Homo sapiens: one gene and its partners. The gene in region 4 interacts genetically with the main gene of each other region. Each region holds a gene or a part of one and is shown on either strand. Other genes may lie near its edges. The genes, in order: WASHC4, NOL10, VAPA, ATG7, LETM1, IARS1 and NRBF2.

Evidence for each region.
Region 1: of ATG7 (region 4) and WASHC4, changing one enhances a phenotype caused by changing the other (phenotypic enhancement), as found in Homo sapiens cells (one large-scale study listed by BioGRID).
Region 2: of ATG7 (region 4) and NOL10, changing one suppresses a phenotype caused by changing the other (phenotypic suppression), as found in Homo sapiens cells (one large-scale study listed by BioGRID).
Region 3: of ATG7 (region 4) and VAPA, changing one enhances a phenotype caused by changing the other (phenotypic enhancement), as found in Homo sapiens cells (one large-scale study listed by BioGRID).
Region 5: of ATG7 (region 4) and LETM1, changing one enhances a phenotype caused by changing the other (phenotypic enhancement), as found in Homo sapiens cells (one large-scale study listed by BioGRID).
Region 6: of ATG7 (region 4) and IARS1, changing one suppresses a phenotype caused by changing the other (phenotypic suppression), as found in Homo sapiens cells (one large-scale study listed by BioGRID).
Region 7: of ATG7 (region 4) and NRBF2, changing one enhances a phenotype caused by changing the other (phenotypic enhancement), as found in Homo sapiens cells (one large-scale study listed by BioGRID).

Annotation. Positions count from the first base shown.
Region 1 is NC_000012.12:105,166,731-105,170,817, forward strand, and holds the end of WASHC4 (WASH complex subunit 4), read left to right. Parts: intron 1-133; coding exon 134-201; 3' UTR 202-2,400; downstream 2,401-4,087. UniProt on the Homo sapiens protein: Acts as a component of the WASH core complex that functions as a nucleation-promoting factor (NPF) at the surface of endosomes, where it recruits and activates the Arp2/3 complex to induce actin polymerization, playing a key role in the fission of tubules that serve as transport intermediates during endosome sorting.
Region 2 is NC_000002.12:10,588,442-10,593,128, reverse strand, and holds part of NOL10 (nucleolar protein 10), read left to right. Parts: intron 1-3,377; coding exon 3,378-3,551; intron 3,552-3,838; coding exon 3,839-4,086; intron 4,087-4,687.
Region 3 is NC_000018.10:9,933,989-9,938,675, forward strand, and holds part of VAPA (vesicle-associated membrane protein-associated protein A), read left to right. Parts: intron 1-2,121; coding exon 2,122-2,225; intron 2,226-2,997; coding exon 2,998-3,078; intron 3,079-4,687. UniProt on the Homo sapiens protein: Endoplasmic reticulum (ER)-anchored protein that mediates the formation of contact sites between the ER and endosomes via interaction with FFAT motif-containing proteins such as STARD3 or WDR44.
Region 4 is NC_000003.12:11,309,595-11,314,281, forward strand, and holds part of ATG7 (ubiquitin-like modifier-activating enzyme ATG7), read left to right. Parts: intron 1-3,709; coding exon 3,710-3,826; intron 3,827-4,687. UniProt on the Homo sapiens protein: E1-like activating enzyme involved in the 2 ubiquitin-like systems required for cytoplasm to vacuole transport (Cvt) and autophagy.
Region 5 is NC_000004.12:1,817,820-1,822,506, reverse strand, and holds part of LETM1 (mitochondrial proton/calcium exchanger protein precursor), read left to right. Parts: intron 1-194; coding exon 195-326; intron 327-3,034; coding exon 3,035-3,169; intron 3,170-4,687. UniProt on the Homo sapiens protein: Plays an important role in maintenance of mitochondrial morphology and in mediating either calcium or potassium/proton antiport. Mediates proton-dependent calcium efflux from mitochondrion.
Region 6 is NC_000009.12:92,244,738-92,249,424, reverse strand, and holds part of IARS1 (isoleucine--tRNA ligase, cytoplasmic), read left to right. Parts: intron 1-1,873; coding exon 1,874-2,048; intron 2,049-4,353; coding exon 4,354-4,466; intron 4,467-4,687. UniProt on the Homo sapiens protein: Catalyzes the specific attachment of an amino acid to its cognate tRNA in a 2 step reaction: the amino acid (AA) is first activated by ATP to form AA-AMP and then transferred to the acceptor end of the tRNA.
Region 7 is NC_000010.11:63,149,549-63,153,333, forward strand, and holds part of NRBF2 (nuclear receptor-binding factor 2), read left to right. Parts: intron 1-679; exon of another isoform or gene 680-808; intron 809-2,601; coding exon 2,602-2,642; intron 2,643-3,785. UniProt on the Homo sapiens protein: May modulate transcriptional activation by target nuclear receptors. Can act as transcriptional activator (in vitro). Involved in starvation-induced autophagy probably by its association with PI3K complex I (PI3KC3-C1).

The DNA of each region.
Region 1 (4,087 bases), on a different chromosome or scaffold from region 4:
AGAGAAACATTTGATGGATGCAACTGTAATTTGAAGTTTGGCAATACAGCTCTTCTCAAATTTCTTTTACTTCTTAATTTATTGTTTAAAAATGAACATAAATATCCATTATTATTTTCACTCATGCTTTCAGAAGAAACTAAAACAAGCAATGGAGACCTGTCTGACAGCACTGTGTCTGCTGATCCTGTTGTGAAATGATACGGATGGTATTCACTGCACATATGATGAAATCATCAGAATTGTTAAAACTTTTGCCAGTGGAATGGATAAACTATTGATGAATTGTTTCCTGGGTCACATCTCTGGAAAATAGATGTTACAGTTCTTAAAGGCAGTGCTTTAAAGTGAAGTTCATTCTGTTTCCAAAGGCTCTACTTTCAAAGGTTAAGAATGAGATTTTAAAATTGGATTTTTGCCTGGACTTGAGGGTACAAGATGTTTCTATTTGAAGTGAAGTTATAAAAGGGCAAATCCAGATTCATAAACTATCACCTCGGATTTCTTGTAATCTACATGTTTGTAATTTGTATTTGCATAGATCTTTGATCTATAGTTATTTCAAGTCATGGGAAATTCAATGCATATACTATATACAGCCAGTAAATACATGCTTAACAAAAGGAATGAGCCTGAAGTTCATAAAGAATACATATCAATATTCTTATAAAAGGAATATATGAAGATGGCTTTGATACTAGAGGTGAGGCACAAGTGTTTTATGTACTCTCAGTGTACAGTATAACTGATGATCCTTCTTTCATTGTTAATTTCATGTGACTCACAAGAGCTGCTGATGTCTTTGATGAGACATTTTATAACTAGTTTACATTGCTTTGAGAACATTTAACCTCCAACAGCTGCTTTAAATTTAAGATTTACTTAATACTCAGAAAATTCAGATAAAGCCATAGAGTCCTGTTTGAAGCTTCACTTCTATTTTGGTTGAAGGCATGATGTATGATGTCAGAAAAAAAATTGAATGAATTATTTCTACATCCAAACTCAGGTTTCTTCTACATTAGATTGAATTGAAATTTTGGTGATGGTTTGGGTAGACTTTTTTTTTATATCAAGTATAATTTAAAACATCAGATTAAATAATTACACTGTTCAGGCTTTTAAAAAAATACCACTGTGAGAATAAAGCGCTAGCAAGATACATCACTTACTGATTTTAAAAATACAGAAAGATTTTGAGTAAATTTTGTGCCCAGCAAGCTGTTAGTTTTATTTTTGTAAAGGTATGTAAGTTATTAAATGGTTAATCATGGCCTTTTAAAAATAAAATAAAGTGATACCTTTACAATGAAGACAAAAGTTTAAAACTTTCTAATACAAACACCATTTTGGGAAATGCTTGATTTTTTTCTATTGCATTTGTCTGCTAAACATTTCTTTGGATAAATCCTGCAAATACTTCTAACATTATTCTTTGATTCCAGCTTTTAGAATGGGTGTACAATGCCCTGTTTGTACTTACTGGTTAGGGTCAGGGTAACTTGCCAGCCCAAGATAAATACTTTAATTGTTAAAAGTCAGAAGAGACAGAATATGTAGGAAATGTTTTTTGTTTATTATGTAAACATGGCTTACAGAATTATGAACAGTGGATAGATTAAAGGCATTTAATATTTGTAATTCATAATAACTGTAGAAATGGCCCTAAAGCATGCTGCATAATTAATAATTTATATTTTCATTATTATAAGTGTTTATATTAATGATCTTGCATTTGATTATATCAAATTCGTCATTTCATAGCAACAGTATTGTTTTCTCTGTTTTTCTTCTCTAACTTCTCTGAAATCATCTCCTATTAAGGGATAGAAATTGTTACTAGAAGAGAATCACATGTTCTGTGTTCATTATCCCTACACATGTAAATTAATTATTTTATCAATACTAGATAGAGTTCACATGCTGACTCCCTGGATACCTACAGTTGAGAAGAAAATGACAGACAATTATTTTTCCTTTAGGTCAAAATAATGTCACTGCTATCTGGATAAATTATAAGTTCATATATTTGAAATAAGATCCTGGAAACGAATTTAAATGGTGTCAAACTGCAGAGCAACAGGGCTTCAGTATATTCACATCTAATAGGTTAATATGTACATTTGGATGATGATTTTTCTTGATAACATTAACATTAATTTTATTTTTTCAGACATACTGTAATTTAAAAATTAATGTGAGCGTTTGTTTTAAGTTCACAGAAAACTTAATAATTCAAATTCTCAGGAATTAAGGACTCACCATAACATTGTCAGTTCTAATGAAATTTTGTAAAAGATGGCAAGTTTGTTACCTCACTTGAGTGGGGTTTTCCTTTTCCCCCAATTCTAAGAGAATATAATGTGTATACTAAAACATTAATAAACATAATTTTGAAAATTTCCTTCCCCTGGATGTTTATGTTCAAAATTGAATGTCGTAAACCAGTAGTTCTTAATATTAACCTTTTTGGGGTCCCCCTTAATTGAATGAAATGAAATCTGTGGAATCATTTTTTTATAAAATGCATGCACATAGGTAAAAATTTGAAGTTTAAAATTGGCTCCTGTCAATGTATTCCAGGTGAAAGAAAGGTGTTTTCTTTCCTTTATACATCCTTGATCTTTCCAGAGCTTTTTTCCAATAAAAAGAACCAATATGAAGTTACTTTAAATCCTAATCCTGGAAAGGGATTATCAGTATGCATTGTTTAATGTTAGTAATAACTATAGTGCTATTTGCAAACCTGAGTTGAACTAAAACAATACAGTAGTCTCCCCTTATCCGTGTTTTACTTTCCAGTTTCAGTTACCTGTGGTCAGCTGTGGTCTGAAAATATTACATGGAAAATTCCAGAAACAATAAGTTTCAACTTGTGTGTTATTCTGGGTAGCATGATGAAATCTTGTGCTGTCATGCTGCATCCCGCCTGGGACGTAAGTCACCCCTTTGCCCAGCATCTTCATGCTGTATGTGCTACCTGCCCATGAATCACTTGGTAGCTAGGTTGTCAAATCAATAGTGTTTGTCTTCAAGTAAGCCTTATTTTACTTAATAATGGCCCCAAAGTGCAAGAGTAGTGACGCTGGCAATTCAGATATGCTATAAGAGAAGCCTTAAAATGCATCCTTTAAGTGAAAACATGAAAGTTCTCAATAAGGAAAGAAAAGAAATCATATGTGGGGTTGCTAAGATCTGTGGTAAGAATGAATCTTCTCTCCGCAGCATTGGTGACAGTATTTGTTACAGTTATGTTTCATCATTAGTTATTGTTAATCTCTTACTGTGCCTAACTTATAAACTTTATCATAGGCATGTATATATAGGAAAAAACCGTATATATACGGTTAGATACTATCTGCAGTTTCAGGCATGCACTGGGCGTTTTGGTGTATCCCTCTCAGATAAGCAGGGACTACAGTAATGACAACAGAGCCTTCAAAATATTACACTGGAGACGAGGTACAATCCTGTTAAATACTACACTGCAGAAATCATTCTTGGTAAAGTTAAGTCTGGTTGCTGTTCCTTTTTTCTTCTGAGGCAGTAAATTTGTAAAATTGTGGGAAAGATGAGAAAATATTGGATACTTCATGTTATTATTTTATGCTGAGTCTGCTAAATGTAAAAGGTAGGCTTTAATTGATTTTAATAATTGTAACAGGATTTTCTTTCCAGCTTCACATTGCAGATGTTTCAGAAGACGGTATTCGTTTTTTAAGGGAAGTTTTAATACCACATTTTTTTTTTAACAAAGGCTTTCAGATGTTAGGAATACTTTAATAGGCTGTCAAAGATGTGAAGTTTAAAAAGGGAATCCAGAATAAGTGGAAATCTGTAGAGACTAAGCAAAGGCAGTGAACTCAAGAGATGGTGATGGCAAAGTTAGAGTTCAGTTTATAACACAGGTCAGCATATATATAATGTATAAGAAAAGTTGGGCAAGTAAGTATTTTCTTTTCAGTAGTTTGGCTCCTCTTTACCACTCAGTTCACCTGATACCTCCATTTCCCATTAGTGGAGATATACTCAGGAATGTACATCAAATTTATTCAGTCGATGCAGATCTGATACCATAATTCTTGGA
Region 2 (4,687 bases), on a different chromosome or scaffold from region 4:
TAATTTGTTTCAAATGGCAATCATTCTTCATATATGTTACTATGTTGGAACAAAATAATAATAGGCGTCCCACTCAGGTAGACAGATACCATTCTTCCAGGTAGGACTGTGGTATGAATAGTACTTTAATGTTTTCTATATTTTAATGGTAAAGTTGAGCATGTGTAGACGGGTATTTATAGGACGGATCACTAGCCAGACACTTGTAAGCTCCTATAGAACATTAATAGCTATACCTTATCCTACTTTTTTCCTTAAGACAGCTGTGAAAACAAACAGACTAGGAAAAAACCCTGAGGGAAATATTTTTACAAGCTGGGTCAGAAGAGGTTTTATTTTATAGTTGTTCATCCAAAGCATACTTGTCTTTAGGCAATGCAATTGATTTGTTTTAAATTAAGAAAAAAATCTTAATACCAGCAACATATGTAGTCTTTGTAACATTTTCTCTATTTATTAAATATGATTATTACTTTAATAAATATAGTAAGATGAAAAGTAAATATTTGCCCTTGGGTTTTTTTAACCTGAAAATGTGTAATAGGCACATAGTTATTCATTTGAAATTATCTTTCACACTATCATCTATCCGATATCTACAGATAACTCCAAAATTTACATCATAGCCCCCTCCCTTCTCCTGAGACATGGCGCATCGTTCCCAGACACCTAGTGGTGTCCGTCTGAATCCTGGTGCTCTTCTCCCTGTGCCACAGGCATAGGCAGCCCTAAATGGAGCGTGATTTCTTCCCCTTTACTCCACCCCTGCGTTTTTTCCTAATGCTCTCCAGTGATGGATTCTAACTCAGTGTCGCCAGCTTTCTGGTTGCTTAAGCTACATGTTTGAGAGAAGTTTCTAACCCTGTTTTTAATTCTTAACCCTCCCATCTCCATAGCTGGATCTGTCAATTCTAATTTAGAACTGTATCTCGTAATTATTCTTTCTTAAAAACTGTCTGTTCCCATTGCCCTAATTCAGGCCCTGTCTCTCTTGCCAGTTTCTTAAAATGGCTTCTTAGTCTTCTCATGATGCTAACTTCTTACTCAGCAGTCCGTCAGACATCAGGCTGCTGCAGACTTTTGAAGCACAATTTTGGGTTGGTTTGTTTGTTTGTTTGTTTGTTTGTTTGTGACAAGGTCTCTCTGTTACGCAGGCTGGAGTACATGGTGTGATCTCAACTCACTGCAGCCCTGACTTCCCAGGCTCAAGCGATCCTCCTACCTCAGCCTTCCAAGTAGCTGGGACTACAGGCATGCACCACCACGCCTGACTAATTTTTTATATTTTGTATAGACAGCGTCTCACCATGTTGCCCAGGCTGGTCTTGAACTTCTGGCCTCAAGCAGTCCTCCCACCTCAGCCTCCCAAAGTGCTGAGATTGCAGGCATGAACCACCACCTGGCCAGTTCTGTCATCTGGGAGTCTTGAAGCACACTTCTGTTGATCATCCATCTTCTCCTTCCTCCCTCCTTCCCTGTCTCCCTCCTTCGTTTCTCTTCCTTTTTCTCTTCCTCTTCTTCCTCCCCCTCCTCCTCTTCGCTAGTGGTTTCCCCTTATATCTTCAAAATAACAGTCATGGTATTTAAAATCCTTTACAGTATGACCCAATCAAAAAATTGTTTTGAAATTGCATCATTCTTATGTCGCCAGACTATTCACCACTCCCATCGGCTGGAAATGCTGTTTCTTCAGATTTCTACTTGTTGAAACCTACTCATCTTTCAAGCCCCCTCCCTGATGCTGCACCCCCCAGGGCCCCTCCTGGGGTGTCTTTTGTTGGGATTCCTTTTTCTGTCCTCTCCTGTGGCACTTTCAGCACTACCGAGCAGCCCTCAGAAGAGGCCTAGTAGCACGTGTTTGCAGTGTTTTTTCTTCCTTACTAGTTTAGGATCAGGAACTCGATCTTACCTTTCTTTTTCCCTTCGTTGTAAGTCTTTCTTGGAAATGATGTTTAATCAGGGAAACTTGCTGCATTTAATATCTTAGAATTTTAGGTAAGGGTTTATCTGTTTTTAGGTACATACAAATAATAAACAGGCCAAGTTCCTTAATATCTTATGATTTACTAAACTTTTGTATAGGTCTGTCACACAAATAATATTCAGAACTCAACTGCCTGCAATCTTGTTTACTCTCAACAGTGGAGAAATAGTAAAGTAGTCTGTTCAGCAGAGTCAGAGTCCATCACAAACAGGTCAGCTTTTTCCAGCAGTGTTCAGGGCTGTTTACTCTGATTGACAAACAATTCTGAGTAAGCCGTTTCATCTGGCTTCCAAGCCTGTAGCAGAGAAGGAACAATAAGACAGTCCTAAATGTGTAAGATTCTCTGTCATCTACTTAAGTGAACAGGTAAGTTTACAGTACAGTTTAGAAAACTTTCCATTGAAAATGGTACAAATAAAAAGGAATTTAGTATCAGTCCTGAGCTATCTAAATGGGTCTCAGTAGCCAAAGTTTTTGTATCTGAAGGATACACAATATCCTTTGACAACAATTAGTTGACCTGAGGGGGAATATTGATGAAACAACCCTGTAGGGGATGGAAACGTCCCTTCTGTTTCCCAGTAACTCAGCTGGAATCGGTAAACTGACATCACCAGCTTCCTGCATCCCACCATGTGAGTTACTGACTTTGTATACCTCCTCTCCCAGTTTTGGAATCTGAAGTTGAAAGAATTGCTTATTTTAAGTCAGTGTAGTAACTAAGCTTTATTTAAAAGCCCTGTTTTCAGTGGCTCATGCCTGTAATCCCAGTACTATGGGAGGCCAAGGCACGAGAAATTGCTTGAGCCCAAGAATTCAAGACCATCCTGGGCAACATAGTGAGACCCATCTCTACAAAAAATAAAAAATTAGCCGGGTGCGGTGGTGCACCTGTGGTCCCAGCTACTTGGGAGCCTGACTGAGGTGGGAGGATCACTTGAGCCCAGGAGGTTGGGGCTGCAGTGAGCTGTGATTGTGCCACTGCACTCCAGCCTGGAGTGAGACCGTATCTCTAAAAAATAATAAAAGCCACTTTTTAAAAACCTAGTATCTTCTTGAAAGGTGTTTTTTTGCATTAAAATGTTAATTGAAGAAATTCTTTCTAATCTGTTAAGCATAAAGTTAGCCAAAAGGGTCATTCTTGGCTCATTGTGTGTAATGGCCAAGTGGTGTAGAGCATCTGCAAAGTAGATTAATAGAGGTTGTTTTGGTGGTGGCAGCTAAAACCTAGGGGCACGTTGAAAGTCCTGGAAGAAATTTCATAATGAGTTAATAATGTATGCCTCATGCCGCTTATTAACTTATAATAGAATCAGTGTTTTAAAACCATGTTTCTGGTCAAATTTTAGTCAGATATTAACTTAAATTTTTACGTACTTTTTCCTCCTTGTAGAGTCTTCCTAATATTCTCACCGATGATCGATTTAAAGTTATGTTTGAGAACCCTGACTTCCAAGTAGATGAAGAGAGTGAAGAATTTAGGCTTCTGAATCCACTTGTTTCAAAAATTAGTGAAAAAAGGAAGAAGAAACTAAGACTCTTAGAGCAACAAGAACTTCGTGAAAAAGTAATGTACTCCTTATCAGTTAGAATTTGCTACTGTTTCTTTAATGTAATGTTTTCTTTGTAAGTTAGAAGAGTCTTTGATTATACTTGAGATGTAATTAATTCCATATTAAGTGTTTGACATTGGGCTTAGGAGTATTATCTTATTTATTTAAAGGCATTTCTCCTGATGCATGCAGTAGAGCAGCTGTTAGGCACTCATTAATGGGCCAGTGCTGCTTCAGAGAAACCAAGGGGTCTGTGTTTGACTGGGGGAAAGGAGTTGCTGCTTACTATTTTTATTCTCAGGAAGAGGAGGAAGAGCCGGAAGGAAAACCAAGTGATGCAGAAAGTTCGGAGAGTTCAGATGATGAAAAAGCCTGGGTTGAAGAGGTCAGGAAGCAACGCAGACTCCTCCAGCAGGAGGAAAAAGTGAAGCGGCAGGAACGACTCAAGGAGGACCAGCAGACAGTCCTAAAGCCCCAGTTTTATGAGATCAAAGCAGGAGAAGAATTTAGAAGCTTCAAAGATTCTGCCACAAAGCAGAAACTGATGAAGTGAGTAGCACTGCCTGAGCGCACAGTTGACATGTAACCAAGCCCTTGCTTTTCCTCTCTGGCACATTGCCCTAAAGATGACATTTCTGTCTTTGGATGATGGAGGTGCAGAGGGTGGAGGGGACGAGGGAAGCAGGGGAGGTAAGGCCGTGCAGGAGGTGATGTGAGGGAAGCACCCAGGAGGCCTGAGGGGAGCGTCGCTATTGAAGTACATTGGTCTCTAGGGGATTTACTTATTTGTCACAACTTTTTGAGGTATAGTTTACATGCAGTAAAATACAGGGTAGAGAGAGCCTTATGAGTATCAGTGGAACACTTTTAAGCTGCAGAAGCCACACACTTTCCTTGTCCTTGTTTTTTCCCCATGGGGTTCCCTCACCTACAAATACTTACTCTGTGCCCTACAGATCAGTGGTTTGAAGCCTTTTGGACAGTGGTTGCTAGGAGATGACAACTTTTCTGCTTCTTCACAAAGTTATTTTAAAAAATTAGAACCTCGGTTATGTTTACCCCATCTCACTTTACCTGGTTATTGAAAAGGTTACTTGGAAAATTTGCCAGAAATTTTAAGTCTTTTTCAGGAAAATTGAGAGATCGAAAA
Region 3 (4,687 bases), on a different chromosome or scaffold from region 4:
CAACGTATCAAAACACTTTCTCCCACAGAAACCTGACTTATTAAAACCTTCAGACAAACTGGTTACTGATTACGCAAACATGCCCTTGGATTGTTCTACTTAATTAGAATTTGGCTTTTCCAGTTTTTAGTGTAGTGTATTTCCATTTACAGTCACTCAAAGCTATGCTTCTTCCAACAACCTTCTCTGGTTAATTCTCTGTACTACATGCTCATTTCTCTTTTTCCCTGTGTCCTTTTGACGCTTTGTTTTTTGAATTTGCTTCAATTTGTGCACATTTTTATATATGTTTTCAAGATCGTCTTTGTCTTGTTATGTGGTCTGCAACCTAAATTAGAGTATAACTCCTATAAACTTAACCATGTTGTAAGTTTTCGTTTTATTCACAAATTTTTGGTTCATAGTGATTAGCTTATAATCATTAACTCAGTGAAGGTTGCTAATGGAATTTTATTTAGCTTAAGCTGTATTCTGAGGCATTTTATCCAGTACATTTCCTGCTGCTGTGTATTTGGCCCCTTGAAAAAGTTGTCTTAACCTTGATAGCAGTTAATGGACTTCTCAGACACACCTTATGAATAAGACTTTATTACATAATTATTTCTTACATTTATTTACCCGTGTTTATCTTTTTGAAAGTGTAGAGATATATCTTAGAAATAATCTAAAGTTAGGGAAATAATTTCTATAATGCCATGTACATATTTTGTGTAACTGTTGATTGATTCTTTGTATAGTCTGTTATATTGGACTCATGTTACATAAATTTAGCATGACTTACAACCACATGGAACCTTAGAAAACTTAAAAGACGAGAAATTATAAATGCTTAAAAATTGCTCACGCCTGTAATCCCAGCACTTTGGGAGGCTGAGACGGGCGGATCTTGAGGTCAGGAGATCGAGACCATCCTGGATAACACGGTGAAACCCCGTCTCTACTAAAAATACAAAAAAATTAGCCGGGCATGGTGGCAGGCGCCTGTAGTCCCAGCTACTCGGGAGGCTGAGGCAGGAGAATGGCGTGAACCTGGGAGGCAGAGCTTGCAGTGAGCCGAGATTGTACCGCTGCACTCCAGCCTGGGCGACAGAGCAAGACTCCGTCTCAAAAAAAAAAAAAAAAAAACTTAAAAATTTTGAATGTTATTGAGACTGTAGAATAAATTTTAGAACTCAAGAGGCTATATGGTTTCCTTGTGTACTTTTGTTTTCTTAGAAGATTTAAATAAATTCATAAACTCTGAAATAGATGTTTATTTAAAATACAATTTTGAAAAATTAATTATATTAAAACAATATATGGGCTGGGTGCTGTGGCTTACGCCTGTAATCCTAGCACTTCGGGAGGCTGAGGAGGGCGGATCTCTTGAGCCCAGGAATTCTATACCAGCCTGGGCAAAATGACGAAAACCCTTTCTCTACAAAAAAATACAAAAATTAGCTGGGCATGGTGGCATGTGGCTATAGTCTTAGCTATTTAGGAGCCTGAAGTGGGAGGATTGCCTGAGCCTAGGGAGGTTGAGGCTACAGTGAGCTGAGATTGCGCCACTGCACTGCAGCGCAGCCTCAGCCACAGAGTGAGACCCTGTTTTAAAAAACAAAAAACAGATGGTAGTGAGGTTTTAAGTTACTGAGTATTTCTCCTTTAAATATCTCAGTTGTATAATTTTAAATCAGAAAACACTAAAATGAAGCCTAAATTCATAGTTTTAATAACTTATATTTAATCTGAGCTTATAGGCATTATAGTTAACGTTGGCAAAGTTTTGAAAATTTTCACAAGCTGAGTTTAGAAAGGGCAAAATCATAGATTCATATTTAATTTTTAATTGTAATTGTTTATTTTGTTGGTTGTGCAAAACTTAGTAAATTAGAAAGACAGACAATTTAAAAATACTTGGGATCCATTAAGTTGATTCTTAAACATTCCAGTGTTTGGTTTCTTGAACCCTTCTTGGTTTTTTTTAAATTTGCATATTTGTGAAGTAGTAGGAATGATACTATTGCCAGATACGGTTTAAGGCAAATCCCAGACTTAGTATAATTTAATCTGTAACTGTTTCAATGTATGTCTTTCAGACATGCAGGAGACAATATAATATATCCTTTTTTTCTTATTTAGTAATGCTACAGCCCTTTGACTATGATCCGAATGAAAAGAGTAAACACAAGTTTATGGTACAGACAATTTTTGCTCCACCAAACACTTCAGATATGGAAGCTGTGGTAAGTATAGAAGAAGAATTTGTTTTGGGAAGTGGAGTTTAAACTGTGGGTGTTGTTTAGCAGTCAGTAGAAAAACTTAATTTCTAAAAACTAAAAGTTAAATTTAGGTTTTTAAAAAACTGCCAATTTCTTCATTATAGATAATCCTAACTTAAAGAATGAAAGAATTTTTAAATAGTATTTTTTTTTAGAAACAATTTAGAAATGCTGCTACTGGCCTGGTGCAGTGGCTCACACCTGTAATCCCAGCCCTTTGGGAGGCCAAGATGGGAGTATCTCAAGCCCAGGAGTTCGAGACCAGCTCAGGCGACATGACAAGACCCTGTCTCTACAAAAACAAACAAACAAACAAACAAAAAACAAAAAAAACCACCACAACAAAAATGAGCTGGGTATAGTGTTGGACGCCTGTAGTCCCAGCTACCCAGGAGGCATGGGAGGATTGATTGCTTGAGCCCAGGAGGGGCGACTGCACTCCAGCCTGGGAAACAGAATGAGACCAACTGGAAAAAAAGAAAGAAATGCTAAGAAGAAAGTCCTATGGTTGCTAGTAATATCATCGTGATTTTAATGGATGGTGATAGTAACTAGGATTATATAAAGGTTCTGTGACATTAGCCGATAACAATGGCAGGGTGATCAATAAAGAGTGCACCAGTGTGTTTCAGCCAAGCCAGGCAGCTTCACTCATCTTTTAGCTGTCCCGTGAGGTGAAACTTACTTACCATGATCATACCTCCTATGTCTCATGTTTGGTTTTGTTTATTTTTAGTGGAAAGAGGCAAAACCTGATGAATTAATGGATTCCAAATTGAGATGCGTATTTGAAATGCCCAATGAAAATGATAAATTGGTAAGTAGGAGAATGTAAAAAAAATTGGGAGCTGTTGAGCTCTCAGTTCCTTTGATTAATTTTGCTTTTATTTTTGACCTTTGAGGTATGTGTGATATGGCTATTACACTTCATAAGACTCAGTGGTTAAGTTTTAAAAAACTTGGTATGCCTTTTTTTTTTTTTTTTTTAAAGTAACATTTTGTTTATCCAAGAAGAAAGAAAGACTCACTTTTAGGTCAAGACTGCATCCTGGAGAAGAATCATTTAAGTCTACCAGATTTTTTGTGACGTAAACCACTGCAGGTTCTTTTTTAGAATGAGATGTGTATACATAATTTAAAAATACATATAAATTGCTTTTTGGCCACTATGTACCGGCAGTTTGGGGATAAATTCACTTACATGGACAGTTTATTCCAGGTTTAGTTATTCCTAGGTATTTTGCTCACTTTTGTTTTTAGTCAAATCCATCTGATTGTATTCTTTAGTAAATAATTATTATGTTGCTTACTCATTAGTGTAAGTCTAATACAATTTGGGGGACTGAGGGATGTATTTGTTTATTCAAAAACAAACAAAAAATAGTCTGTGAATGTACCGAGTGGGTTGTAGTCACTTACCTTGTCCATTTCCCTGTCTGGATTGCAAATTTGAATCTTTTCCTATGGTGAGAGAGACTTGAAAGATAAATTTTTCTGTGTGTGTATGTGACTTAATACATACAATAATATGGATAAATAGAATGGTGTGGCACAATTTGGTTACAATCTGACATGACTACTGCCTTAATCTAGTGGCCATTTGCTCTATTGAAAAGTAAACATGCAGATTAAATATGTGGGCTCAGTTATTGTGTTCCTCTTTCAGGATAAGCAGAAATGAAAAGGTCTCTGGTAATTAGGTGTTGACCAAATTATATTTTGAATTTTTAAAATGCCTCTTTTAAGTGATTTTTGAGGTATTTGCCAAAAGCAAAAAATTGTGAACACATGTATTCTCTGTGGAAAGTGAGTGTTAGATGGCCTGTGTATGCTTCCCATTTGGAGGTTTTCTTTTTTGCTTAGGCGGAGGGAAGCTAATAGCTTGCCCAGCTCTTACTGTTGAAACCAAGAAAACAAAACAGCATGTTGTCTGGATTGACTTTTTAAAAAAAAATTTGGATATTTTCTCACTGAGAGTTTTATGTCATTTTTTACAGTAATTCGGTCAGCGTAAATCTATCTTCTATCTGGGCTTCTACTGTGCTCTGGATAGCACACACTTTGAGATGTGTGAAAAGGATTGGAACCCCAGGTATTTGATACTGCTGATTAAGAGTAGCTCTCACTGGTTTAGAAACCAAACCAGAAGTTGATGGGAATGATACGGCAATGACAGTTGAACCTCGCCATTTACACATCTTGGGTGAAAAGAGCAGTTATGCCTACCTATTGGTCTAGCCCATAGTTATCCAAGAAAGTAGTTTTGGGTCTGTTTTAGCGCTTGAACAAATACTGAATGGAGTTCCCAGAATCCCCTGCGGTGGAACTCGAGCAGGAGTAGTTTGAGCCTGGAACCTTTTCAGAGCAGGTATTACTAGTAACCTAAAAGCTGTTAAGTAACTTCAAAGTACTTTAGAGAATATCTG
Region 4 (4,687 bases):
GGAAGGACCTGGCCTTGGTGAGGGAAAAGTAGGGAAAAGGTAAGGGTCGATTATAGAGATACCAGCTATGCATGCATGCGCGTGTGTGCGTACACACACACACAGATACCAGTTATACACAGGCACGTGCACACACACAGCAACACACAGATGTGTGTATATATATCTGTGTATATAAAACTAATTTATATCCTTTATTATTATATTGACTATATAACATTCTGTCAAATGTATGTTTCATAGATTCCTGTTATATATTTAGGTGGTTTCTAATATTCACTGTTATAAAAAATGCTAGTCTGGGCACAGTGGCTCATGCTTGTAATACCAGCACTTTGGGAGGCTGAGGCAGGTGGATCACTTGAGGCCAAGAGTTTGAGACCAGCCTGGGCAACACCTTGTCACTTCAAAAAATATAAAAATTAGCTGGGTGTGGTGGCGCCTGCCTGTGGTTCCAGCTACTGGGGAGCTGAGGTGGGAGGATCATCTGAGCCTGGGAGATTGAGGCTGCAGCATGCCATGATTGCACCACTGCACTCCAGCCTGGACAACAGAGTGAGACCCTGTCTCAAAAAAAAAAAAATACTGTGGTATATTGAAAAATATATAATATTAGCCATATTGATCTTTTCTCCTGCTCATTTTACTTCTTTAGAATAAGTTCTTTGGAGCGGGCATATAAACACAGTAATGTTGCTGTGTATTAAGTGTGCTGTTTCACCACAGCATCATCAGCTTTGGACATTAATCCTCTTTCCCACTTCTTTTTTTGGCAAGTTTTCCTTCCCCGACCTCCCACCGTTCCTCCTAGATTCCTAGATGCAGGGGAGGCCTCTGATTTATTGCCCAAGGCAAAGGAGGGTATGATAGCAATCAAACAAGGCCAGTGGGTGGCTATCTACAAGGAACACATTTTCTAACAAGTTATAATGCTTTCTATGTAATAGTGGAGGAGAGAGAAAAATGTTTAAATTTTTTGTCTGATTACTTGGCTCAGTTTGGCATTAATAATCTGTCTATACGTTTGGGTAATTCTGTAGTTTTTTTTTTTTTTTTGAGACGGAGTCTCGCTCTGTCACCCAGGCTGGAGTGCAATGGTGCGATGTCGGCTCACTGCAAGCTCTGCCTCCCAGGTTCATGCCATTCTCCTGCCTCAGCCTCCTGAGTAGCCGGGACTACAGGCACCCACCACCACACCCGGCTAATTTTTTGTATTTTTAGTAGAGAGGGGGTTTCACCGTGTTAGCCAGGATGGTCTTGATCTCCTGACCTCGTGATCCGCCCGCCTCGGCCTCCCAAAGTGCTGGGATTACAGGCATGAGCCACCGCATGCAGCCTGTAGGCTCTTTACTGGGATAAATTGTAAGCATTGCTAGTTAAAGATTTCTAGTTACTTGAACGTCAGTACGCTTTCTGTACCAAGAATTCTCATAGTAGAACATGCTGACAGTTTGCATTTAATGAGAAAAATAACATTAGCTCTTACTTAAAGTTTTAAGGTTTGCCTAGAGTCAGTATGTGTGTTGGTCTTGCTGCCTTGTTTACTGAGCATTCTTAGCCTGACTTAAAAAAAATTGTAAGTATCTACTTTTTAAAATCTTCAGACACCAAGGACTTTATGTTTAATTTAATGGAGGTCATTTCTATCCTGAAAAGAATCCTAAGAAATGCAAGCTTTTTGACTTTTGAAAATGACCTGATAAAGTTTCTTAGAATTCGTGAGGTCCGGCCGGGTGCAGTGGTTCATGCCTGTAATTCTAGCGATTTGGGAGGCCGAGGTAGGCGGATTGCCTGAGCTCAGGAGTTTGAGACCAGCTTGGGCAACATAGTTAAACCCCGTATCTACTAAAATTAAAAAAAAAAATTAGCTGTGCATGGCAGCCTGTAGTCCCAACTACTCGGGAGGCTGAGGCAGAAGAATTGCTTGAACCTGGGAGGTGGAGGTTGCAGTGAGCTGAGATCGTCGTGCCGTTGCACTCCAGCCTGTGTGACAGAGCAAGACTGTCTCCAAAAAAAAAAAAAAAAAGATTTTGTGAGTTTCTTCATCTTGAATTGTTTAACCTTTTACTAAATATCGGTTATGACAAATCATTTAAGTACAAAGAAGAGAAAATAATCTCTGGAGGTGTTTTTGCTTTCCTTCTGCTGTTTTTTAGGACTCATAGGACTAGACAGTTCATTAATTTCAGCTTTGCAGTTCATTTTGCCATTGTGAAGAGGGAATTTTTTCTTAGTTGATCAATGAATAGCAGAATTAGAGACCGCAGAGATTACAATTATTAGACTTTCTCATCTGTACACATGATTACATATACATTTACATTTTAAAACTCATCTAGTATGATTTCATTTATATGAAAAGTCCAGACTAGGAAAATCCACAGAGACAGAAAATAGATTAGTGGTTGCCAGGGGATGAGAAGAGGGGGAATGGGGAGTCTCTGCTAATATGTATGAGATTTCTTTTTGGAGTGATGAAAATATTCTGGAATTAATAGTGATGATGGTACAACCATATCACTATACTAAAAAGAAACCACTAAATTGTATACTTTTTAACATGGTGAATTTTATGGAACGTAAATTATATCTCAATAAAAAGTCATCTAACAACCATCCAATTTTAATTCTTAGCAAGATTCAAGAAGAAATATTAATTAGCTACATAAACTGCATTCATATTCAGTGGTCACAGGCTTGTAGGCAAGCTGCCAAATACCCACATATGTCTGGAATGCTACCATGAATTTAATTAAGGCCCCAAAAGCTGTAAGAATTCTGAAGCAAGAGCCATTAGCGTGAGTGGGAACAGTGTCAAAGACAGCCTCACAAATCCTTTCCCCTGGATCTCCTACCCTGGTGGGGGATCGGTCAGATATACCCGTGAAGATGTAACCTCTTCTATTCACCCATCCAGCTTACTACTTAGAGCCTCTCCATGGCTCTAATCATGCACTCGCTTTATCTCTGCTCTGTCCACAAAGTGAGCTGCCTGGTGTCTGGGACTGGGGTTTATTCATCTTATTGTCAGTGTCTTATGTTTTGCCTTGTACATAGCAAGGGCTTGATAGTTGTTGACTTAAATCCACTAAGCCATTTACAAAAGCAATATTGTATTATTTCAGGCATGCATACATATGTGAATAGCACAGCTTCCTTAATAACATGTAATTTATTTGATTGTGAAGAGAATGGTAACTGTTTGGAAGTTGTGCTTCTGTAGATAGTACATTAAGTATCTATGGTCAGTGGAAAAAAGCTTAAGTTTTGGAAGCAGAGTTCTGATCTCTTCTCTGCCCCTTGCCATCTTTTTTGTTGTTGTTTAGGTTTTTTACCCCTTTGTAAGATTCAGTTTTCTGTTTATAAAATGGGATAATAGTAAATACCTCCCAGGGGGGTTTTGTAGGTTAAAGGATGATGATGATAATATCAATTACATATTGCACATTTTCTGTTAGCAAGTGGTCAATAAAGTATATTATGTTTGTCATCATATTATTAGTGGTGGTATATGAGACTATTTTGGGAATACAAAAGTCCTTTATTTGATCATGAGTTCTGTTGGGGATGAGGATATTTGATAAGCTGGACAGACTTTGTTTGCATAGCTTTGCTATCTTAATTGGCCTTGAGAAGCTACATTAATAGATGCATTTCACCTTAAGTTAATGGTGCTATTCTAATAACTTATTTATACTTTTTTTTCTAGGATCTAAAGAAGTACCACTTCTACTATTGGTTTTGCTATCCTGCCCTCTGTCTTCCAGAGAGTTTACCTCTCATTCAGGGGCCAGTGGGTTTGGATCAAAGGTTTTCACTAAAACAGGTATCAACAAATAACCAAAATGCACATAAAATTGGGTTGAATGTGCAAGAGTAGTTATGTAGTTCTTTCCAAAGACAAACAGGCACTTCTCTGGATGAAGACGTGGTAACTGAAATCCTCCAAAGGTGGTACTAGGAGCAGACTTATTTAGAAAATGTTTGTAAAGTCATTTTTTTGTATATATATTTATATATGTTTTGAGACTGGGTCTCACCCCCATTACGCAGGCTGGAGTGCAGTGGCACGATCACTGCTCACTGTAGCTTCAACTTCTCAGGCTCAGGTGATCCTCTCATCTCAGCCTCCTGAGCACCTGGGACTACAGGCATCCCATCACACCTGGCTAATGTTTGTCTTTTAATAGATATGGGGTTTTGCCATGTTGGCCAGGCTGGTCTTCAACACCTGGGCTCAAGCAATCTGTCCACCTCAGCCTCCCAAAGTGCTGGGATTACAGGCATGAGCCACCCTGCCTGGTCTGTAAAGTCATTTTGAAGATGTAGTGCACAGTAATTTTCCAGGTTTTCAGTGGTATTTGGTGAAATGCTAAGCCAGTAAGGGGGAATTATAGGAATATTTTGAAACACTGAAAGAATTTACCAAAATGTGGTCTTCATTTTCAATGTGGGGAAACATAAGGCAGTATAGTCTGGGAAAGAGTCTTTGAAACAAAACAGAAGGCATTCTCCTACCCTTGTACCAAGTTGCAGAACTTTTCTACCTGGAGCAGTACATGCAGAGTTAGTCGGTGACATTTGGGATAGATAATAAGTTCATTAGAGATGGTTCCCAGAAGAGCAGTTAAAATAATCAGGCTGGTATAACAGAGACCCTAAACTAGAGAATTCTTATTGTTGTTAA
Region 5 (4,687 bases), on a different chromosome or scaffold from region 4:
TCTGGAGAGGGCCCCAGGTGACCTGGCAGCTGCATGGAGCCTCCCTAGGGACCTTCTGTGGCAGGTGTGCTGCCCAATGTCACCTGCAGGCCTGCTCCCAGTGTGGCCTCTGCCATATGTTCTGAGCTTCGGGGAGCAAGAAGACTGCTTCTGTGTGATGGCGGGCGCTGGGCTGGTGTCGCCTTGCCTTTCAGAAGGATTTTGAGCCCGAACGTGTGGTAGCTGCTCCCCAAAGGCCGGGGACCGAGCCACAGCCAGAAATGCCTGACACAGTCCTGCAGTCAGAGACCTTGAAGGACACTGCCCCGGTGCTGGAGGGCTTGAAGGTAATGAGGCAGGTTCTGGGGCCCTGGAGGCTGAGGAGGGCATGGCCTGGCTTTGTGGACAGTTGTGGGGCAGGGATGGGGACAGGTTAGCTGGGGCATCTATAGCCCTCAGTGAGAGGAGATGGTGCAAGGGGTTGAGGATGAGGCCACTGGGCCCCTAGGAGGCTTGGTGGTTAGGAAAAGAGTGAGTCCGGCCGGGCTCCGCACTGTGCCTGGGTGCACAGCAGCTGACGCTGCCGTGAACTTAGCACCCTGGCCCACAGTGTGGCAGGTAGAGATGCCAGTCGGCAGGTTTCAGGGCCCTTTGCCAGCTTGCCCAGACAGTGAAGGGGTGTGGAAGCCAATGTGGCCCCTCAAGGTAGAGCCTCCTCCACAGGCCCAACCTGCTGTCACCTCCTGTGGGGTGATCTGGGCTTGGAGCATCTTCAGACTCCCCATGCGAGCCTGTGAGGTGCAGCCTCCAGGCGCCTGTGCTGCCTACCTGGGGCGCCTCCTGGTACCTTCCATCTTGAACTCGCGGGCTGAAGTGCAGTGGCGCCATCTCGGCTCAGTGCAGTCTCAGCCTCCCAGGTTCAAGCAACTCTTCTGCCTCAGCCTCCCAATATCTGGGAGTACAGGCGTGCACCACCAGACCCAGCAAATTTTTGTATTTTTAGTAGACAGGGGGTTTCACCATGTTAGCCAGGCTGGTCTCAAACCCCTGACCTCAAGTGATCTTCCCGCCTCAGCCTCCCAAAGTGCTAGGATTACAGGTGTGAGCCACCACACCCAGCCATAAAAAAAAAATTTGGCCAGGCGCAGTGGCTCACGCCTGTAATCCCAGCATTTTGGGAGGCCGAGGTGGGCGGATCACGGGGTCAGGAGATCGAGACCATCCTGGCTAACATGGTGAAACCCCATTTCTACTAAAAATACAAAAAATTAGCCAGACATGGTGGCATGCACCTGTAGTCCCAGCTACTCAGGAGGCTGAAACAGGAGAATGGTGTGAACCTGGGAGGCAGAGCTTGCAGTGGGTGACAGAGTGAGACTCTGTCTCAAAAAAAAAAAAAAAAAATTTCACTTTTTAGCAAATCAAATAGAACTATTCTGTAAAAAGAATCATGATCACATGGGATTTGTCCAAAAAATGCAAATTGGCTTGAATTTTTTTTCTTTTGAGGTGGGATCTCACTCTGTTGCCCAGTCTGCAGTGCAGACATGACCTTGGCTCACTGAAGACTTGACCTCCCAGGCTCAAGTGATTCTCCTGCCTCAGCCTCCCGAGTAGCTGGGATTATAGGTGCCCACCACCACACCCAGCTAATTGTTGTATTTTTAGTAGAGATGGGGTTTCACCATGTTGGCCAGGCTGGTCTCGAACTCCTGACCTCAAGTGATCCTCCCACCTCGACCTCCCAAAGTGCTGGGTTTACAGGCTTGAGCCACTGTGCCTGGCCAAAATTTTTAAAATGTAATTTCCATATTAACAGACTAAATTAGAAAAGCTGGGAATGTTTATCTTGGTAGCTGCAGAAAGAGCCTGTGGCAGAACCCAGTATCTGTTCCTGATATGCAGATGTCCTGCACATGCAGGCAGCTTTCTCAGCCCAATCAAAAGCATCTGCAGAAACACCTCCAGCTGCCGTCACCCTCAGTGGTGAGACGCTGATGAGGTTGTCTGTCCTCACTCTGAGCTCAGCATCAGCTTGGGGGTTTCAGTCAGGGCAGTTGAATACAGAAAACAAAACCATATAGATCAGAAAGGAAAAAGGAAAACTCTTTATTCACAAATGGTGTGAACAATCAATTGTGCTTCACTATGGTAATGAGTAGTCAGAGAAGGTTTGAACAGTATGGCACCCCCCAAAATGAACTACTTAGGGATAAATTTGGAAAAAGATATGCAAGTGCTGTCCACGGAGTACTGTAAAATGTTGCTGAGGGAAAGAAAAACCAAACAGAGAGGCTGGGCGCGGGGCCCACACCTGTGATATCAGCACTGTGGGAAGCCGAGGTGGGAGGATCGTCTGAGTCCAGGAGTTTGAGACCAGCCTGGGCAACATAGTGAGACGCCGTCTTTACAAAAAATAAAAAGTTGGACAGATATGTCAGTGTGTGCCTGTAGTCCCAGCTCCTGGGGAGGCTGAGGCAGGAGATTGCTTGAGCTTGGGAGATCAAGCCTGCAGCAAGCCATGATTGCACCACTGCCCTCCAGCCTGGGCAACAGAGTGAGACCCTGTCTCAAAAAACAAGACAAGAAACACACGACCACAGGGGCAAATCTCAAAATAAGTGAGTGAGAGAAGTCAGACAAAAAGAGTGCTTGCTGGATGATCCGTCTATCTAAGATGCTAGAAAGTGCACCCGAGTCTGCAGTGGCAGGACCTGAGGTTGCCTGGGGGTCGGTGGCGGGACCCAGTGGGGGCACAAAGATGCATTTGGAGGTGACTCTTTGACTGTAGTGAAGTTTCACAGTACACGTGTCAATTCATAGATGACGCGCTTTAAACAAATGGGGTTTGGCATATGAGGGCAGACAGTGACTGCGTGCAGCAGCCAGCGCAGCAGTGAACCTGAACCCCGCGGGTCTCTTGTTACCAATGACTGTCCAGTGAGACTCTTGCCCTGGGCTGCCCGTATAATATGAACAGAGCAGCTGGTCACTTGGGAACAGGCCAGTTCTTTCCCTTGGCTCAGGCTTTGTTGTTTGCCCATTTTTATCCCAGGAGGAAGAGATCACGAAGGAGGAAATCGACATCCTCAGCGATGCCTGCTCTAAGCTGCAGGAGCAGAAGAAGTCACTCACCAAGGAGAAGGAGGAGCTGGAGCTGCTGAAGGAGGATGTGCAGGACTACAGCGAGGTGGGTGGGATTTGCTCCCTGGACTCTGAGACTGCAAGAAGAGTAAAATCGCTGTACTGGCCCCAAAAGTATACATAATACTTCCGTCAGATACTTGATAAGCTGGCCAAAGAGTATTTGGAGAGGAAAGCACGTTATAAATAAACCTTATTCAGTAACCTTTCCACAGCCATTCCGGCTGGACCAATCCTCTGTAATGTGGCTGTGTGCCGTTCTGGCCACAGATGTGTGTGCACCTTTTTTTTTTTTTTTTTGTAAGAAGGTCTTGCTCTGTTGCCCAGGCCAGAGTGCAGTGGCACAATTTCAGCTCATTGCAACCTCCACCTCCTGGGTTCAAGCAATTCTTGTGCCTCAGCCTCCCGAGTGGATGAGACTGTAAACATGTGCCACCATGCCCAGCTCAATTTTTTGTATTTTTAGTAGAGACGGGGTTTCACCATGTTGACCAGGCTCATCTCGAACTCCTGGCCCCAGGTGACCGACCTGCCTCGCCCTCTCAAAGTGCTGGGATTACAGGCGTGGCCACCGTGCCTGGCCACATCTTTTAGTTTCTAAACATGGGAAGGTGTCTCATGAAGAGTTTGGTCACTTGACGAGATCTTATTCATGATTACGTGAAAGTGGCTTTTTTCTTTTCTTCCATGGTGGTTTGTTTCCCTTTTTTTGTAAATATTACTTCCTAATAACGATTTTTTTTCTTTCTTTCTTTCTTTTTTTCTTTTTTTGAGACGAAGTCTAGCTCTGTCGCCCAGGCTGGAGTGCAGTGGCGTGATCTCGACTCACTGCAACTTCCGCCTCCTGGGTTCAAATGATTCTTCTGCCTCAGCCTCCTGAGTAGCTGGGACTACAGGCATGTGCCACCATGCCTGGCTAATTTTTTGTATTTTTAGTAGAGACAGGGTTTCACCATGTTGACCAGGCTGGTCTCGAACTCCTGACCTCATGATCCACCCGCCTCAGCCTCCCAAAGTGCTGGGATTACAAACATGAGCCACTGTGCCCGGCCCCTAATACGATTTTTTAAAAACTGTTTTCATAGCTCTGTTGGGAATGATAACTGATTTTTCAATTGGCAAAAATAATTGGCCATTTCTAGATTTATGACAGCCCTCATGCCATGTGGGTTCTCCACTGGATGTGAGGTGCTTATCACCAGCTCAGCCTGTTCCTTCCCTCCCCTCCCCTCGCCTTCCCCATTCTTCCTCATGGTGTTTACTCGTGGGAAAAAAACAACTTGGAATTTAAAAAGACACTTAAGGCTGGGCACTGGTGGCTCAGGCCTGTAATCCCAGCACTTTGGGAGGTCAAGGCAGGAGGATCACTTGAGCTCAGGAGTTTGAGACCGGCCTGGGCAACATGGTGAAACACCATTTCTGCAAAAAATACAAAAATTAGCCAGGCATGATGTTGTGTGCCTGTACTCCCAGCTACTCCAGAGACTGAGGCAGGAGGATTGCTTGGGAGTGGGAGGCTGGGAGTTGGAGGCTGCAGTGAGCTGAGATCATGCCACTTTACTCC
Region 6 (4,687 bases), on a different chromosome or scaffold from region 4:
CCCGCCACCATGCCCAGCTAACTTTTGTATTTTTAGTAGAGAATGGGGTTTCATCATGTTGGCCAGGTTGGTCTCAAACTCCTGACCTCAAGTGATCTGCCCGCCTTGGCCTCCCAAAGTGCTGGGATTACAGGCATGAGCCACTGTGCCTGGCCTTCTGAAGTACTTTTTGATAACTACCAAAGAAACTTTGTTCCTCCAAATTATGCAAGTGACAAGTACCCTCGCATGTAAAAAGTCGAAGCAATAGCATAGGGAGCCTCTCTCCACCCCATTTCTCCCTGGAGTCTCACTTCCTGGCTGCTTCATAATTTATTTAATTACTGTCCCGTTGTTTGACATTTAGGTTTCTGATTACAAACAAAAGCTTTGTGTGTACATATATGCATATATCAGTGTATGGATATTGGATAGATTCCAGAAGTGGAGTTTTGGGGTCAAAGTTTATAGTGTCAGTTGTCTTCCTAAACATTTTTATTCCATGATATTTTAAAACATCTTTATTCCATGATGTTTTAAAAACGCATATGTTTTACCTCATCTTCTTTGTGATGATAGAAAACAAATATTTTTTAAAATTTCATTGTTTATTCTTTTCACAGGTGATATTTAAAATCATTATTATAGAAAATGTTAATTTCTATATTTGGTTTTCAGTTGCTTGAAAGTTGCAGAGAAATATTAGAAACCAAAAGTTAGATTTTAAATTCTGACATTAGTACCTGTGGCTATGCATAAAATAGAAATTTTTTTTTTTTTTTTTTTTTTTTTTGTGACAGGGTCTCGCTCTGTCACCCAGGCTGGAGTGCAGTGATGTGATCTTGGCTCACTACAGCCTCCATCTCCTGGGCTCGGGCAATCCTCCCACCTCAGCCTCCCAAGTGGCGGAGATTAGGCATAGTAGTACAGGCTTTTGTAGAGATGGGGTTTTGCCATGTTGCCCGGGCTGGTCTCTAACTCCTGAGCTCAAGTGATCCTCCCACCTCGATCTCCCGAAGTGCTAAGATTACAAGTTTGCGCCACCACACCCAGCTGAAAAATTTTGAAATTAACTACTTCACTTAAAATGAGATTAATTAATGTAGCTAAATATAATGGCAAAACTAAACATTCCGTATTATTTGCTTCAAGCTGTTCTCATTTTCCCATCCGCTACTGTGCCATCACCATCCCTGCCGCATCAGTAATCCTCAGTAGCATGACTGAAGCATGAAGTGTTCTGTTTAACTGATCTTCTGCTTAGTTAATAGTTAACCTTGTGGTACTCTGCAATTGCTTGCACAAAGGTTACCTCTGAGGGATGAGGTTTATATTTCTGGGTCTGGAGTCCTTTTTCTGTTATGCTCAACTGTCTTGATAGATCTTCATAACAAGCATTTTCTTCTTACCATACAAATCACTGGTTTTTAAGCATATTTATAGAATGGTACAACTATCACCATAGTTTTAGAACATTTTCCTCGTCCCAGAAAGAAAGCCAGTATTCATTAACATTCACAAACCATTTTCCCCTCAATATCTGACCATTTCCTGGCATCCACGAACCTATTTGCTATCTCTGGATTTGCCTTCTCTGGACATTTCATATAAGTGGAATCATACAATTTGTAATCTTTATGTCTGGCGTGTTTCACCTAGCATAATGTTTCACATTAATTTATGTTGTAGCACATATGAGTGCTTCAGTCCTTCATATTGCCAAATACTCTATTGCATGTGTATGCTGCATTTTGTTTATCCATTCACAGTTGATGGACACTTGAAGTGTTCTTGCTTTCTGGCAGTTAGGAATAATGCTGCTGTGGACCTACATTTTTGTGTGAACATATGTTTTCATTTCTCATTTTTGTTTCCTCTTGTGCATTAACTGTAGGAACTCAATGTTCGAAAAGTTACACTGTCTACAGATAAAAACAAGTATGGCATTCGGCTAAGGGCAGAACCAGATCACATGGTCCTGGGGAAGCGTCTGAAGGGAGCCTTTAAGGCAGTGATGACGTCCATCAAGCAGTTGAGCAGTGAGGAGCTGGAGCAGTTCCAGAAGACTGGTAGGTGTCTACACAGACAAGGGCACCATTTATGTCCTGAGTCTGAGGGATACTTTTTAGGCTACTGTTTGACTTTTAATATCACATCCTTTCCTTTCCTGTCCTGTCGTGTCCCGTCGTGTCCTGTCCTTTCCTTTCCTTTCCTTACTCTCTTCTCTTTTCTCTCTTCTCTCTTCTCTTTTCTTGACAGAATCTCGCTCTGTCATCCATCCTGGAGCACAGTGGCGCGATCTTGGCTCACTGCAACCTCTGCCTCCCAGGTTCAAGTGATTCTCCTGCCTCAGCCTCCCAAGTAGCTGGGATTACAGGCACGTAGTACCATGCCTGGCTAATTTTTGTATTTTTGGTAGAAACAGGGTTTCACCATGTTGGCCAGGCTGGTCTCTAACTCCTGACCTCAGGTGATCCACCCGCCTTCGGTCCCCCAAATTGCTGGGATTACAGGTGTGTGCCACTGCACCGGTCCATCCTTTTCTTAAGTAAAACTTTTTTTCCTGTTGATAAAAATGTTTATTATAAATAATTCTTACAGTTTAGAAAGAAAATAGCTGGGCACAGAGGCTCACATCTGTAATCCCAGCGGCTCACATCTGTAATCCCAGCATTTTGGGAGGCCCAGTTGGATAGATCACTTGAGATCACTACAGGCACATACTACCACACTTAGCCAGATGTGGTGGTATGTGCCTGCCATCCCAGTTACTCTGGAGGCTGAGGTGGGAGGATCCCTGGAGCCTAGGGTGATTTTGTCCTTACTTTCATGGTGCTTGCTGACATTGAAGATTTGGGAAAATAATTATGGTTTTGATAAGTGTTATAAAGGGAAGGTGTAGGGTAACATAAAAACATGTGGGGGTACCTAACCAAATGATGGGATTAGGAAAGGGAAATCAGCCCCATCTTGCTACCCCTATACAGAGCATTTCAGGGTGCCCAGAAATTTGCAGCTCTGCCATGATTAGAATCATACATGGTCTGAGTGTGGCTGTCTGACATCCTGTAACTATCCTGGGGCACAAGCTGTTTATTGTTACGGCTTCCTCTGAAGTTGAAAATCATAAGCTAGGAGATGTCTTGAGAAGAGAGATTTGAGGATTCATAAATCAGATGGGGGAACTGTCCCTAAGATTCTCCAAATATTTAGATAGAATTAATAAAACATAAGACATCAGCAGCTAAACCTCAAGTTATTACTAATTACTAATCAACTCAAAATATTAAAATAACAAAGTGTTACGAGCCTTCAAGCCACAAATCTAAATTGTTCGCCAGATAGCCAAAGCATCAAAAATTCCTGAGATGGCTGGGGGTGGTGACTCATGCCTGTAATCCCAGCACTTTGGGAGGCCGAGGCGGGCAGATCACGAAATCAGGAGATTGAGACTGTCCTGGCTAACACGGTGAAACCCCGTCTCTGCTAAAAACACACACACACACACAAAATTAGCCAGGTGTGGTGGCAGGCGCCTGTAGTTCCAGCTACTCAGGAGACTGAGGCCGGGGAATGGCGTGAACCCAGGAGGCAGAGCTTGCAGTGAGCCGAGATCCTGCCACTGCACTGCAGCCTGGGTGACAAAGCAAGACTCTGTCTCAAAAAAAAAAAAAAAATTCCTGGGCTAAACCTTATTTGAAATTGAAAGCCTAGTTTCTGAGCGTACTGTTCTGCACTGATGGAAAACAAGATCATCTTCAGAACACAGAGACAAAGTAAACATAAAAATGACACCCGGGTGCTCAGAGCCCAAGAAGGTCATCATCAGTGACAACAGTGGGCCTCCCTATCAGCGGGGGTGTTAACATCAGCAGCTGTTCACATTTCTGCCTCCCCTGAACAGGCATGATGCTCAGTACTACACACTGCCCGTCTCATTTTAGCCTCACCACACCTTGCTCAGCAGGTAGCAGAACACCATGTCATACAACCAGCAAATAGTGGACCTAAGTTCACTTTCTCTTTAAAGACTGTATTTTCTTCATGACATCCTGCTGCTCTGTGTTTATGGTGAGCATTTGTTGCCTCTTGGTGCCTTCCCTTAGCTTTGTCATGTCTTTGGACCTGAGAGTTTATATAAAACAGTAGATACTGGTGATGACTTAACTGTCTTCAAGGTAGCATAGTGTAATCTAAAGAAAGTTTGTCATGTCTTGGCTACAACCATGACATGAGTCAGAGGGAAATGATCTCTTGAAGCCTCTGTGGCTTTGTTATTGTGAAATTTTAATCAAGAAGGGGCATAATACACGGGTAGTGGGGCAGCTTGAAGAGGAGGGGAAGCTGATTAACAGTGTAGCTGCTTCTCCATAGGGACCATTGTTGTGGAAGGCCATGAATTGCACGATGAAGACATCCGCCTCATGTACACCTTTGATCAGGCCACAGGTGGGACTGCGCAATTTGAAGCACACTCAGATGCTCAGGTATTTTTCTGTTTCCTAGAACATTTCTTTACCAAGAGATGAGAGCATAAGAGGAGAAAGTATTTGCCTGTGCCTTTCCTGATAATGTTGACAGCTTGTCTCAGGGTAAAATAAACCAGTTACTTGGTTTAGATTGGCTTTATTAAACTAATATATTATTATGCCCTTAACATATGCATTTGTTTAGTGAATACATAAGTAAGCATTTTGTGATTTCTACA
Region 7 (3,785 bases), on a different chromosome or scaffold from region 4:
TATTGTGAGTCTGTGGAAGAAATCCATGAACATGGAATCAGATTTAAAATAATTTTTTTCTTTAAAAATAACTTTAAAATGCCCCACTTATAAGATTTAAATGTGGGGAATACTTTAAATGACAGTATGATTCTTGTTGAATTCTTTGTGCTTTGGGATATCCTTCTGTAACCTCCTTTGTCATATACAATTTCAAGGTTCTACAAAGGGTGGCATTTCAGTTGGCTAAAGCTTGGTTTTGTGAAAACTATTGTTTGTTAAGAAAGTGGATTTAAAGCAAACTATAGTTCAAACAGGGAGACAAATATATGCAGGCAAGATGGAAGAGATGTCTAAGAAAATGTGTCTACAGTGTATCAGAGCGGTAGCAGAGCAGTTAGAATGTCTCCACAGATTTTTTTTTTTTTTTTTGAAACGGAGTCTTGCTCTGTTACCCAGGCTGGAGTGCAGTGGCGTGATCTCGGCTCAGTGCAACCTCCACCTCATGGGTTCAAGCGATTCTCCTGCCTCAGCTTCCCTAGTAGCTGGGATTACAGGTGCCTGCCACCACGCCCAGCTAATTTTTGTATTTTTTTTTTTTTTTAGTAGAGACGGGGTTTCACCATGCTGGCCAGGCTGGTCTCGAACTCCCGACCTCAGGCGATCCACCAGCCTCAGCCTCCCAAAGTGCTAGGATTACAGGTGTGAGCCACCACACCCGGCCGTCTTCACAGATTTAAACATGAACAAAAGGAAAAGAAATAGTATGCAGCTGTACAGACATACTACAGGAAAAAAAGACAAGGGTTGTGGGAAGGATGTAATTATGGTAAGCATAGCTGGAGCAAAGACTGTATAACCAACTCTGTTTTTTCTTTCCTTTTTTTTTTTTAAATTCTTTTTAAATTGATACAGGGTCCCGCTATGTTACCCAGTCTAGTCTTGAACTCCTGGGCTCAGGCAGTCCTCCTGTTTGGCCTCCCAAAGTGCTAGCCACTGCGCCTGGCTCCAACTCTTCTTTTTCTTGGAAAGGGAGCATCTAATTCAGCAGTCCCAACCTTTTTGCTGCCAGGGACTGGTTTTGTGGAAGTCAATTTTCCATAGACCTGGGGTCAGGAAAATGGTTTTTGGATGATTCAAGCACATTACATTTATTGTACACTTTATATTTTACAATGTAATAATAGAAATAAATAATTATACAACTCAACATAATGTAGAATCAGTGGGAGCCCTGAGCTTGTTTTCCTGCAGCTAGACAGTCTCATCTAGGGGTGATGGGAGACAGCGACAGATCATCAGGTATTAGATTATCATAAGGAGAGTGCAACCTAGATCCCTTGCTTGTGCAGTTTGCAGTAGGGTTTGTGCTATGAGAAGCTAATGCCGCTGCTGATCTGATGGGAGGCAGAACTCAGGCGGTAATGCAAGCAATGGGGAGTGGCTGTAAATACAGATGAAACTTCACTGGCTTGCCTGCTGCTCACTTCCTGCTGTCTGTGTGGCCCAGTTCCTAACAAGACATAGACCAGTACCGGCCTGGGGGTTTGGGACCCCTGATATAATTGTATCTTAAAGACTGTGGTAGAACCTAGCAGGCAAGAACTCTTAAGTTATGACATCAAAGCATTAAATTATTTGGATTAAGACTGGACAGAAAGCAATGCCTCGTAGTATCTGCAAAAGGGCAAAAGAGGAACTTAATGTAGGTATGAGAGATGCCAAAAATGTTTATAACAAGCAAGATAAAAATGGAGATTCATTATGGACAATTCATTGATAATAGAGAACTTATTTATACCTAACCTTGTTCCCGAAAGGTTATAAAATGTCTTACAGATGAATGTACAATAAAATATCGAATGTAATTAAAGATACATAGATAAGGACATCCATAGAGAAAATGAGAAAGGACTAGTAGTGTAGTTCACAAAATGTACCATTAGTTCTTGCATATTTTTTTAAGAACTTGACTTAAGTTTTCTAGCAGTCATCCTAAAGAGGAAAGATAATAATTTTTACATTGGCTATTAAAATTCAAACAAATAGTCACCGAGGATCTAAGATCAGAGAGAAGTTTATTGAAGGTCTTCATAAATGACATTATACTGTCCTCAGTAACTTCCTCGCAGTAAATATGTCAACAAGTTCTTAGGGCTTTTAACCATAAGGCTGATGGTTTAACTCAGAGACAATTCATTAAAAGTGATTCTATAGGAGTCCAAAATGATAGATTCCAGGTATTCAGACGGATAAAAAGTCATTGATAATCTCATGATATTTTTGTGAGTATGATGAGTAATAGGGTTTGGATAGGTTCTTGTTTGATTTTTATCTTTCCTAAACCTATTTTTCTGATTAGACCATCTTCAGTTTCTGAATTATAAAATCTGTAGGAGTTTTAAATAACAAAACCTTCAAGATAGGGTAGGGAATATTTTCATTTTATTGCCACTGACATCCTTTTGGGGGAAGTTAAGAATTCTTTTAAAAAATCCCCAATTGTATCAGAGTTATCAGACCAGTTCTCTTTGTCATATGAAGATTATTAAAACTCTTCCTTTTACCTGTTAATTACAAAATGAAGACACATATTAACATGCCTATTTTTTCTCTTAACAGCATATCTTTCTGAAGCCATGAAGCTGACACAGTCAGAGCAGGTGAGACATATTCCCAATATTTGCGACAAGGGTTAGAAAGGTTTTCTTGTGGAGGCTTGAATTGTGTGTAAAGCAAAGCATTGTGTCCCTCTCAAAATGCTATAGTCAAAAATATATAAAATGGGCAAGGGAAGAGCACTTCACAACGGAAATTAAAACTAAATGAACTGCAGTCGATGCCCCAGACATGGAATGCAGAAACTTCTTTTTTTCTAGTGGTTACTCACAGATCTCAGATTGCCAGCCAGATGTACCTTTTAGAGAGCCCTCTTCGGACCATTCCTAATCATTAGCTCTTATTTGATCATTAGCTTACAGTCAGTAAACAGGCCTGGCCAAGAGGAAACTAGTTGGACCACCCTTTGCTTGTCAAAGATAATTTAAATCTGACCAGTCTCCCACTTGTCTTTGCTTGAATTCTTAAGCAGTTCAGGCACTTTTAAATTTGTTTCACCAATTGCTTTAAATTGTCTTCTGTGTTTGGGGAGGCCCTGCCAAGTGTTTCAAGATACATTTATTCATAAGACTGGGCATGGTGGCCCATGCCTGTAATCCCAGCACTTTGGGAGGCCAAGGCAGGGGGATCACTTGAGCCCAGGAGTTCGAGACCAGCCTTGGCAACACAGTGAGACCCCATCTCTACAAAAACTTAAAAAATTAGCTGGGCGTGGTGGCACATGCCTGTAGTTCTAGCTACTTGGGAGGTTGAGGTGAGAGGATCACTGAACACCTGAGTCCAAGGCTGCAGTGAGCTATGACTGCGCCATTGCACTTCAGCCTCAGCAACAGGGACCCTGTCTCTAAAATAAATATATATAAAATATCTTTTTAAAAACTTTTTGTTATAAAAGTATTAGTTAAAGAGATCATTTCTGTGAGGTATATCAGTGGCAGGGAAAGCCACTAGTTTCTCAAACTGAACCAAGGGAACTTTAAAGTTGTGTTCTATCCCTTTCACTGCCTTTGAAAGTATAGAATCTGCTCATGATACAGGCATGCATTGAGTTATCCAAACACGCGGTTGATAGGAAGACTTTCTTTTTAGCTGTTGGTAGAATTAATATGTCTACAGAGGAAAGATTTCTAATTTTGAGTACAAATGACATTACACATGGGGTCAGGCACATTGAGGAAAACATCCAA